2 separate regions of the Homo sapiens genome follow, and region 2 is linked to region 1. The links come from fine-mapping of genetic effects on plasma protein levels. Region 1 holds a variant in brackets. A gene starts in the other region. All regions are shown on their reverse strands.

What was found. PIP is the posterior inclusion probability: the model's chance that the variant is causal. The UK Biobank Pharma Proteomics Project read protein levels with antibody pairs (Olink). The fine-mapping took linkage between variants from a reference panel, not from the people measured, so its PIPs are less certain.
Region 2: it holds the start of IMMT, and the variant in region 1 is fine-mapped to the plasma level of the IMMT protein (UK Biobank, PIP above 0.99).

Annotation. Positions count from the first base shown.
Region 1 is chr14:106,002,730-106,008,257 of GRCh38, reverse strand. It overlaps IGH and IGHV1-3. Among named protein-coding and RNA genes, the nearest start is that of FAM30A, 88 kb to the right of the region's middle. The variant C/T (reference allele first, on the strand shown) is at 2,722.
Region 2 is chr2:86,192,519-86,197,583 of GRCh38, reverse strand. It overlaps IMMT (inner membrane mitochondrial protein), which reads left to right and starts at 2,122. Exons shown (of 15, transcript NM_006839.3): 1 at 2,122-2,246. The coding sequence starts at 2,202. MIR4779 (microRNA 4779) reads left to right here and starts at 4,476; the gene lies at 4,476-4,558. RefSeq lists enhancers at 2,132-2,251, 2,272-2,451, 2,572-2,621.

The DNA of each region.
Region 1 (5,528 bases):
GCACAGAGTCTATCTGAGGAGGAGAACTCAGGGAAGCCTCACAACAACAGGGGAGACAAAACCGAGGTCACTAAAAAAATATGAAGCTTCTGGCTCCTGCAGCCTCCAGACATGCCCCACACCCTCTCATTGCACACAAATGAATTCCTTTCTCTTTCCTGAGTGATCTTTGCCAAGATTCCTCTCCTCCACTTTGACACTTTGGTATATCCATGTGTGTCCATTCTGGTTCAGCCAGGGACACAGAACCAGGAAGACATCATGGCTTTTCTAGAGGGAGCTGGCTTGGGGAATCAATGGTTGGAGTAGAAAGTGTCTTTGTCCATGTGTCACAGCCCTGAGGGACACGGGAAGAAGGTCAGGAAGACAGGATGACCAGACGGCTGGAGCAACCAGTATGAACAAAGCCACTTTCTTTCCTGGTGAAGAGGGGCATTTGGAAGCCTGGTGTCCCTGTAGGGGATGAACCACACTCACCTGCCCACTGTTACTTGCCAACGAGGTGACCCGCAGAGCAGCAGATCCTGAGTCACCGACAGTGGCTGCTTCCTCCTCCAAACCCTCCAAGATCTGTCCTTCCAGGAGTGTGAACCTCAGCAGATCCGCACGTTTTCAATGGGTCCACTTAGCTAGTGTCTGTCCTCAGCCCCATCCCTGGGATCCTGTCCTGGTGCTGTGTACACTGTCACAATAGTGGTGACAGTGACAGCTGGTGCCTGCACTTTCCAGGCCAAGAAGTTTGAAAGAAGCAAGTCACAGGGCCAGCCTGGATTTGGGGCAAACACACAAATTTCACTCTGTGGGGAAGTGCTGGGAAGCAGCCTTGAGTCCTCCTCAGCTCACGTGTGGCTGCTGCTTCTCATCCCAGGTGGGACACATGAGCCCTCCCCATGCCCAGGATGGAGCTGTTTCAGTCACAGCAGGATGGGAATGTGTCTTCTCTATGGGGGCTTTTGAAGCACAGCTCTCCTGTTCCTGAGATTTGAGATTTATAAAGACAAGTCCCACAGAGTGAACCTGCACAAATAAGACAGTACAGGATCCCCAGGAGAGACATCCCATATGAGAAGGGACAGGCAGGTCCCATCACTGACGCTGGTCCTCAGAAACCCTGACCAGCTACTGACCTTCCCAGGTCCCCTGTTCCTGGAACAGTTCGTGTGTCTGCTCCTGAAAAGATGCCCATCAAGAGTCCCCAGGGTTCTGCCCCCTTCCTTGATGTGCCTCTGGGAGTGGGGCTGGCTGGGCTGTGGGTCTGGCGTGACCCTCTCCACAGGTCAGCGGCTCAGTGCAGGCTGCACCGACTCGGTGGGGCTGGGCTGTGGCTGACCCTCCCAGGGGGAGCCTGGACTCTTCTTAGGGGTATCTGCAGGATCCCAGGTTCTGGGAGAACAGGGAAGCCACAGTGTGTGCAGGGCCCCATCTCCAGTAAAGTGTTTGCTGTCGCTCTGTTGACAAGGGCATATCCCCAGGCCTAGGGGCACTGTGGGCGCACGACCAATGCGCGAGACACAGGGAGTAAGGCACAGTTCCCTCCCATTACTGTGAGGACACTAGACACAGTGTGTGTGTGTGTGTGTGTGTGTGTGTGTGTCCATTACTGTGGGGACTCTAACCACCGTGTGTGTGTGTGTGTGTGTGTGTGTGTGTGTGTGTGTATTAGGAGTTTTGCAGTGGCTTCTGAGACCCATGATTTTGTAGGTTTAGAAATTATCTGATGAGATGTTCATCCACAGGAACCGACAAGAGATTAGGTGTTCTCCCAAAGCCCCTGGAAGCTCCTGGACTCACTGTGAGTGTGGACTGATCCAGTGCTTCCGGAGCGCCACAGAAGGGGCTCCCTGGTGGTTTCATAGAATCCTTGCTTGGGGTGTTTCTGCAGAGTTCACTGGCTTTTTCCTACGACCAATTTACTATTGCAAGCGATGGCGTCAGCAGCACATGGTGTCACGTGTCACTAAAGGAGCATTCTGAGCCAGGACACAGCCACTTCATACTGGGGGGAAAATGCTCTGGGAGCCCAGACAGGAGCCTCTCTGCAGTGCAAGGGCTGGGCTGCAGGGGGCGCTCAAGGCCCACCCAGCACAGGCTCCAGCCCCAGAGCAGGTGCACAGGAGGCTGCGGATGGAGTCCCCTTAAGATCTGTGTCATTCTTCTAAAAAAATCTAAAATAAGTATTTGACAAAAACTGCTGAAGAGTCCATAAATATCCTATTCAATTGCAAGAATTTATCAATTTACACTGGAGATTTCTAACCCTGCTACATATCTTAATAGTAAGCATCTGGAGGTCAATTAAGCTTTTATTTTATATAAATAAGTGCAACTTTTGGAGAAACACACTCATCCCCCAAATAACACATTCATGTATTAAAGCCTAGAAATACTTTAAATTACCTCTGAGCTATTCAAGTGTGGGTTCCCAGTGAAGTCCTGTTCTAGGGAAAATTGTTCTCCAGTGGGAGAAGCTCTGTCAACATACAGCTTAGGGATATGGCAGGGCACACATGGCCTCTAAGGGGATTATAGCTTGAACCCTTAGCATCCTCCTGTTGGGTAATCCATGTGTCATCTCTCCACTCTTTCTCATGCTGTGTTAGGTATGAAATAGCATCGCTCATGAATATGCAAATAACTGAGATGACTATAGATATCTTTGTGCCCTGAGAGCATCACCCAACAACCACATCCCTCCTCAGAAGCCCCCAGAGCACAACGCCT[C/T]ACCATGGACTGGACCTGGAGGATCCTCTTTTTGGTGGCAGCAGCCACAGGTAAGGGGCTGCCAAATCCCAGTGAGGAGGAAGGGATCGAGGCCAGTCAAGGGGAATTCCATCCACTCCTGTGTCTTCTCTACAGGTGCCCACTCCCAGGTCCAGCTTGTGCAGTCTGGGGCTGAGGTGAAGAAGCCTGGGGCCTCAGTGAAGGTTTCCTGCAAGGCTTCTGGATACACCTTCACTAGCTATGCTATGCATTGGGTGCGCCAGGCCCCCGGACAAAGGCTTGAGTGGATGGGATGGATCAACGCTGGCAATGGTAACACAAAATATTCACAGAAGTTCCAGGGCAGAGTCACCATTACCAGGGACACATCCGCGAGCACAGCCTACATGGAGCTGAGCAGCCTGAGATCTGAAGACACGGCTGTGTATTACTGTGCGAGAGACACAGTGTGAAAACCCACATCCTGAGAGTGTCAGAAACCCCAGGGGGGAAGCAGCTGTGCTGGCATGGAGGAAATGACAAAGATTATTAGATTGAAGACTTTCTCAGAAAATGATATTAAGTCATTAAGGAAAAGGAACAATATAAACATGTATTTGAGAAATTTTAATTATTTGAGAGATTTTTCATACAATATTTATTCTGCAAGCAAATTTCAGGGATTGAATTAATAAAACTGATACAGAACTTCCTCTGTAGGTATCTGTGTAAACATCAATTTCTGAATCAGTGTTGTAAATATTTTGGAACACACACACAAATCACATTTTATCTCTACTTTTATCTCTATTATTAAAAATGCCAAAAAAACTCATTTTGTGCATGTAGCATTTTGAATTCCCACCATCAATGCATGATAGTTCTTGGTTTTCCACATTCATATTGCCATTTATCATTATGAGAATTGTGTGTTTTAACCATTCTAATAGGTGAGTAATGGTATCTAATTTTTAGTTAAATGCACATTTCCGTAATAAAAATTCACATTTAACAATTTTCATATAATTTTTGCCGAGATGCCTCTTCTCATATTTGGTTCATTTTTAACTGCATTGTTTTCTTTTGATTAGTTGTAAGTTTACTTGCATATTGATTATAAAATCATTTAACAAATTAAAAGAATTCATTTAACAAATATGTGACTTGGAAGTATTTTCTCCAAGTCTGCGGCTGTCTTTTACTCCCTTATCAGTATGTATTGCAGAAAAGTGTGTGTGTGTGTGTGTGTGTGTTTATACAAATTTAGATTTTAAAAATGTAAAATGTTATTCATCCACAGATCATGTCTTTGGTATTATATCTGAAATCTCATTATAAAATACAGTAATATCAATTACTTTTTCCATGTCTCTAATCTCAGGCTACAATCATCTCATGAGTGTTTAAGCTTCACCTACTTGATTGGAGGACTATCAACCTAACATATTTGGAATACTTCTGTAAAAAGATGTGTTCCTCTTCCTATTATTTCTTTATTTGATCACTTATTAATATGTGTATTGGTTTATGGATGTCTATTTCATACTCTGAAGAAGATCCATGCTACATTATTCATTTTATTTTTCAAACCACCATGGCTTTATTATGTGCTGGGAGCTCATTGAGTTTGGATCCTGCATCCTTACAGCTCACCTCATGCTTTTGTTTTTGAACACTTCCCTGTTTCCTGCTATTATAATAAATTCTAAACTCATTTTCTATATTATCTTTTTCATACATAGAATCAGCCATTTTTCTAAAGATTGCTTGCTTCTGATGTTAAAGAATAGTATTTAAAAAATTGTAATACTGGGTATGTGCATTGTTAATGTGGTATAAGTACTTGCAGGACCTCTCAACCAACTGGCCTAGTAAACTATGTATCTAACCTTCTGTAATGTGATTACATTAAAAATGAGAACACACTGGTCTCTCTACCCAATTATGCTACCACATGGATCTTTCTAGCCTTCCTTCCTTGACTGTCTATAACCTCTCACTGCAAAATGAGGAACCCCATCCAACCATATGCCATTTTATTACTTAGCTGCACAATTTCAGGACACATGCATAGCAGTATCAGAAATGTAAAGCTGTACCCTTGTAGGAAACATGTTTATCTACTAGAATAGAGTGCTTATGTTCAGTTTCTTTACACTTTAAACTTACAGAGTTTCCTCATTTTCAAAGTTCCTTAGGTCAGCAACTTCATTTTCCACTTTCTTCAGTGAAGTCATTTCAATGACACTGTATAATTTGATTTATTTGAAATTCTATAAAAGCCAAAACTGTAGTCAAGTAAACAACAACATATAGAGGATATTCGAGGAGTTTAGAGACTGGGTATAAAATAAGTTAAAAAGACACTGTTTAAGAAGATTAAAATTATTTTTAGTGATATGCAATGGTTCAGATATGACACAATTAATTTGTCTAAGCACATAGTTTTGTGATGGAAAATATAAACCTAAATATATACAATTAAAAAAAATTTAGCAGTTCATTAACCCAAGGATCAAATGCAGATTGTATAAAATTATCTCATTACTTATTTTGTGAGGGTGGAGATTTCATGAGATGTATGCAACAAAGAATGAGGTAATTTTCCTGATTTGCATATAAGATGTTGCCATTCACTAAAGACCTTTAATTTTTTAAATTTTTTTTTAAATCAATTTTCTATGTGACCCAGGTTTTTTCCTCTTGACAAGCAAATAACCGACAGGATTATTTTCTTTCCTTGGTTGAGAAATATTTCCCCAAACTTCAGCTCAGTTCAGGCATACACTGTCCCTGAATGGGCATTTACCCTCAGATGGGTACACACA
Region 2 (5,065 bases), not on the chromosome of region 1:
CTCTGCTTCCCAGGTTCAAGTGATTCTCCTTCTTCAGCTTCCCACATAGCTGGGATTACAGGCGCGCACCACCAAGCCTAGCTAATTTTTGTATTTTTAGTAGAGACGGGGTTTCACCATGTTGGCCAGGCTGGTCTCGAATTCCTGACCTCAGGTGATCCGCCCGCGTCAGCCTCCCAAAGTGCTGGGATTACAGGTGTGAGCCACAGCGCCTGGCCTGCCTGATAACATTTTAAAGCAAAAATATTGACAACTTCCAAGTGGAGAGTGAGGACTCTCCACGTAGGTTATGAGGGGTTGGGAGGCTAATTTTGAGGTTTGAGATCTTGAAGCTAGAGAGGTTGCTAATGATGTTCAGGCGCAAGTTGTGGCTGTGACGTACATGACTGAAGCAGGATGAAAACATTCACTGGCATTGACAAATTCAAAGCCAAGGGTGTTAGAAAAGTCATCACACGGGCACCACATGACTGAAGCAGGATGAAAGCGTTCACTGGCATTAAGAAGTTCAAAGACAAGGGTGTTAGAAAAGTCATCACACCGGCACCACTGGGCATGACAGCAGTGGGCAGGGAGGCAGCAATTCAATTGCTAAAATTACTAAAGAAAACGGGAGACTGCTCTGGAAGCTAAGTGAAAGAGATATGAAACATATGTAATTACTGTAGTCCCCTAAAAACCATAGAACATAGAACATATACAAACATAACTATTGCTTTCAGATAATTTTCAAGTCCATCTCTCCATGCTACAAGTCATAGCGCAGTCTACCTCTAGAGAGAATACATATTGTAATAAATTACCCAGTTAAGACTTGGAATACTTTGCAAATCCAATAGAAGATAGAAAAGTTAGTTTCCACGATATTGCAATAAGATGCTAATAGTATTAATACGAACATATTAATTCTGGAGTATACATGGAGTATTAATACCATGCTTAATATTTAACGTGTTTTATTTTGATTACAGAATCAATGGAATACTTTTGTTTTTTGAGACAGAGTTTCGCTCTTGTTGCCCAGGCTGGAGTGCAATGGCGTGATCTCGGCTCACTGCAACCTCCGCCTCCCGGGCTCAAGCAATTCTCCTGCCTCAGCCTCCCGAGTAGCTGGGATTACAGGCACCCGCCACCATGCCCAGCTAATTTTTTGTATTTTTAGTAAAGACGGGGTTTCACTATTTTGGCCAGGCTGGTCTCGAATTCCTGACCTCAGGCGATCCACCCGCCTTGGCCTCCCAAAGTGCTGGGATTACAGGCGTGAGTCATAGCTCCTGGCCCTACTTTTCTTTTTAAATTTTTTGTTTGTTTATTTTTCTATATAGAGACGAGGTCTCACTGTGTTGCCCAGCCTGGTATCGAACCTCTGGGCTCAAGCGATCCTCCCGCTTCGGCCTCCCGAAGTACTGGGATTACAAGCGTGAGCCACCGCGCCCTGCCCAGTGGAATACTTTCAACGGTGCTTCTGCATTGACTTCCCATCTTCCAACCCATCCACAAACTGCAGCCAAAATGATGTTACTACAGTAACAACTTGGAGAAAGCAGTGTGGCTTAATCTGGAAGGAGCAGAAGCTGTGGAGTCCAAAGGACCCGTGTTCCTATCCTTGTTGTGCCACTTGACACGTTTAGCACAAGGGTCCCCACAGTGTTAGTTCACCGTCTCCAGCAATCACTATGACTCCCTGGAGGGCTGTCAAACGAAACAAAGGCGCAAACTGAGACAATTCCATTGTTTACGTAACTTTCGCCAAATCGGCTCCTTCCTACGAAATATCCAGCTCATAGAGCAGGCTGAGATGCTTTGTTGCTTTAATTCTCTTTAAGAGTCACAGCTGTCCATTTTCCACGTGCGGCTGAAGAATGGATTTCAGAGCGCTCTCCCTCCGGCAGTGTTCACCTAGTAACCCCTTCCGGATAAGGACCTGCAGCCCGGGCGCGACCCGGAAAGGGAATCCGCCCTTTTCGCCTCCTTCGCGCCAATCGCCTGGAGTTGGCGTTTCCGCAGCCGGGACACAGCCCACCCTCTAAGAGCCGCGGAGTCGGGGACGGTAGAAGGGGCCGCGCGTGCGCAGTGGCGTCCGCTGTGCTTCCGGTGCGCCGGGCGCGGACGCGGGCACGCACACACGCAAGCACGCCTCCACTTAACTCGCGCCGCCGCGGCAGCTCGAGTCCACCAGCAGCGCCGTCCGCTTGACCGAGATGCTGCGGGCCTGTCAGTTATCGGGTGTGACCGCCGCCGCCCAGGTGAGCACTGGGGCTCCCGGAGGCGCGTGAGGAGGCTGAACTAGAACCGTCAGCGAAAAACGGGGGAGCCTTGGTCGCTGCCTAGCCTCCAGGACAAAGGCGAGCCTCAGGGCCACCCTCGTCGGGAGAGGCCCGGGCGGGCAGCTAGGCAGCCACCAGGGAGTTCGCCGGACTGGGATGACTTGAGGTTATTGCAGCAGCGGGGTGGGGTGTGGAGAGTAGCGGGAGGCGCGGCTTCGTGGGCATGTAGTCCAATCAGGGCCGCGCTGCCCCCGTCCAGGACCAATCCTGGCTGCTGGCGTCTGGGTCGCCGGTTGGGCGCGCGATAGGTTTTCAGTGCTGAAGGTCGACGGGCGAGAACTACAGTTCCCGTCAGGACGAGCGGAGCGGCGGCTTGTTGCATCCTTAATAAGGAGGTGCCTGGACTTCTAGCGAGAGTCCACATTTTAGGGGTCAAGGTTGTAATTATCTGGGAGGGAGTGCCTTTCTTTTCGCAGCTGAGAACACTTCTGAGTTATTCTTAATCCAAACAAAAGCGAAAGATTTTCATTTGTGGAGCTGAAACTCCTGGTCTTCAAGGAAAGACAGGAGTCATGACCTTGTGGCTCATTTCTGAGATTAGGGCAGGGATCTGTGTCTCCAGGCGCTGGGACTACTTTGACATTCAAGGAGCCTAAATACCCAGTTACTTCTAGTTTTGCGTAATTGCCAAAGTTACTTTCTAAAATTGAAAATTAAAAAGCCTGTTTCCACTGCTCATGATTTTCAGGAAGTTGATATTTTGGCAAAATGTAGATAGCAAACCAAGTACTGTGACTCAAGCAGTAATTGAACAGAATCCCTAGGAATAGTGAGTTAGAGATCATAAAAGTCAAGCTTTGTTTTTTCAAGTTCGCTTCTCTTCCTATTTGCTGCTAGGTAACAGAAGCAGCCCCTTCCATAGGAAAGTGGAACGAACCTGTGTTAGTTTTCTATTGCTGCGTAACAAATACCACAAATTTAGCAGCTTAAAACAACACCCATGAATGACCTTACGGGTTCTGTAGGATAGAAGTCTGGGCACGGATGATCTGTGTTCTCCGCTCCAGGTCACATAAGGCTGCAAAGTATTAGCCATGCTGTGGTTCTCATTTGGAGATCAGGGTCCTCTTCCAGGCTCATGCAGTTTGTTGGCAGAATTCAGTCCCTTGCAGTTACAGGACTGAAGTACTTCTTTTCTTGCTGCCTCTTGCCAGCCACTGCTCCCAGCTTCTACAGCCTGCCTACAGTTCCTTGCCTCAAGGCCTCTAGAGGCCATTCATAACATTGATGTTTGCTTTCGTGCAGGCTACCAGGAGCTTGCCTCTCTGACTTCCAAATTTCTTTTACTTTGGTCTTTCCTCTCTAGACCCAGATTTAAAAGGCTTATGTGATTAGACCAGGCCCACCTGGATGACCTCCTTTTCAGTTAATTCAGAGTCAACTTTTTGGGATCCCATTTGGGAATTAAGAAAACTAATTAAAACTTGGTAATAAAAAATGAACCCTTTTATAGCTCTGAATCAAGATGTCTAAGCTTCTTGAAATTGCTGTCTTGTAAAATTCTTTGGTTTATTCTCACCATCTCCTTAATTCTGTAGCATTTGACATTGCTGCTTTATGAGGCTCTTTGTACTTTTGGCTTCTCTCAAGTAATATTTTGGGTCCCATCTCTCTTGTTTTCCTTTACTGAGTCTGCTTCTGCTTTGTACCTCGAAATATACACCTTCTCATCTCTTCCTGTCTCTTTATAGACTCTCTAATTTGAGATTACATCAACTCTCAGAACTTTAATCCCCAAGCAGGTGACTCTCTAGCCTCGTCGTATTTGATTGTATCAACGTATCCAGAATATCTCACTTGTCAAGATCCTTTCCACTTTATTAAACCCCATCTTTCTTTTTTTTTTTTTGGATACGGAGTCTCACTTTGTCACCCAGGCTGGAGTGCAGTGGCACAGTCATGGCTCACTGCAGCCTTGACCTCCTGAGCGCAAGCAATCCTCTTACCTCAGCCTCCTGAGTAGCTGGGACCACAGGCATGTGCCACCATCCCTGGCTAATTTTTTAAAAAATTTTTGTAGAGACGGAGTCTCTCTGTGTTGGCCAGGCTGGTCTCGAACTCCTGGGCTCAAATGATCCTCCCACTTCTGCCTCCCAAAATGCTGGGAATATAGGCACGAGCCACCGTGCCCAGCCAACCCCATCTTCTTAAATGTCTTACTGCTTTTACTGTTCCCTCCTAGAGTCCATTCTTTACTCTAGGAGGGAATAGTAAAAGCAGTAAGACATTTAGTAAAAGGCTTTTTAAAAGGCAAACATGAGGTCATGCTCTTTGGAGACATCGCATCACATTCAAAATAAAATCTAAACTGCTTACCATGGGCCCTTGATCTGACTCTTCTCATATTTCATTTTTCTACTGCCTCACTCAGATTCTCCTGGTAATCTCCAGCATGTGCCTCACTGCCTTTTCATCAGGTGTTTCTTTTGCCCTGAACTCTTCTCACAGGTTTGCTTAACTTATTCCCTTCAGTTAATTTCTCAAATGTCACCTTCCCTTCAGAGAGGGCATCCTGATCCAAAATAGAATTCTGACTACTCTTGCCTTCCTTGTATCACTATATCTTTACCCCATCCTACTTTGTTATACTTTGTAGCTCCTAGCACTACCTGATGTTATAATGTGTATTTATTACACAGTTTCCACCTTTAAAAAGTAAGCTCCACAATGGAACTGTGTCCATATTTACTGCTGTATTTCCAGTATTAACAATAGTCCCTGGCTCCAAGTAGATGCTC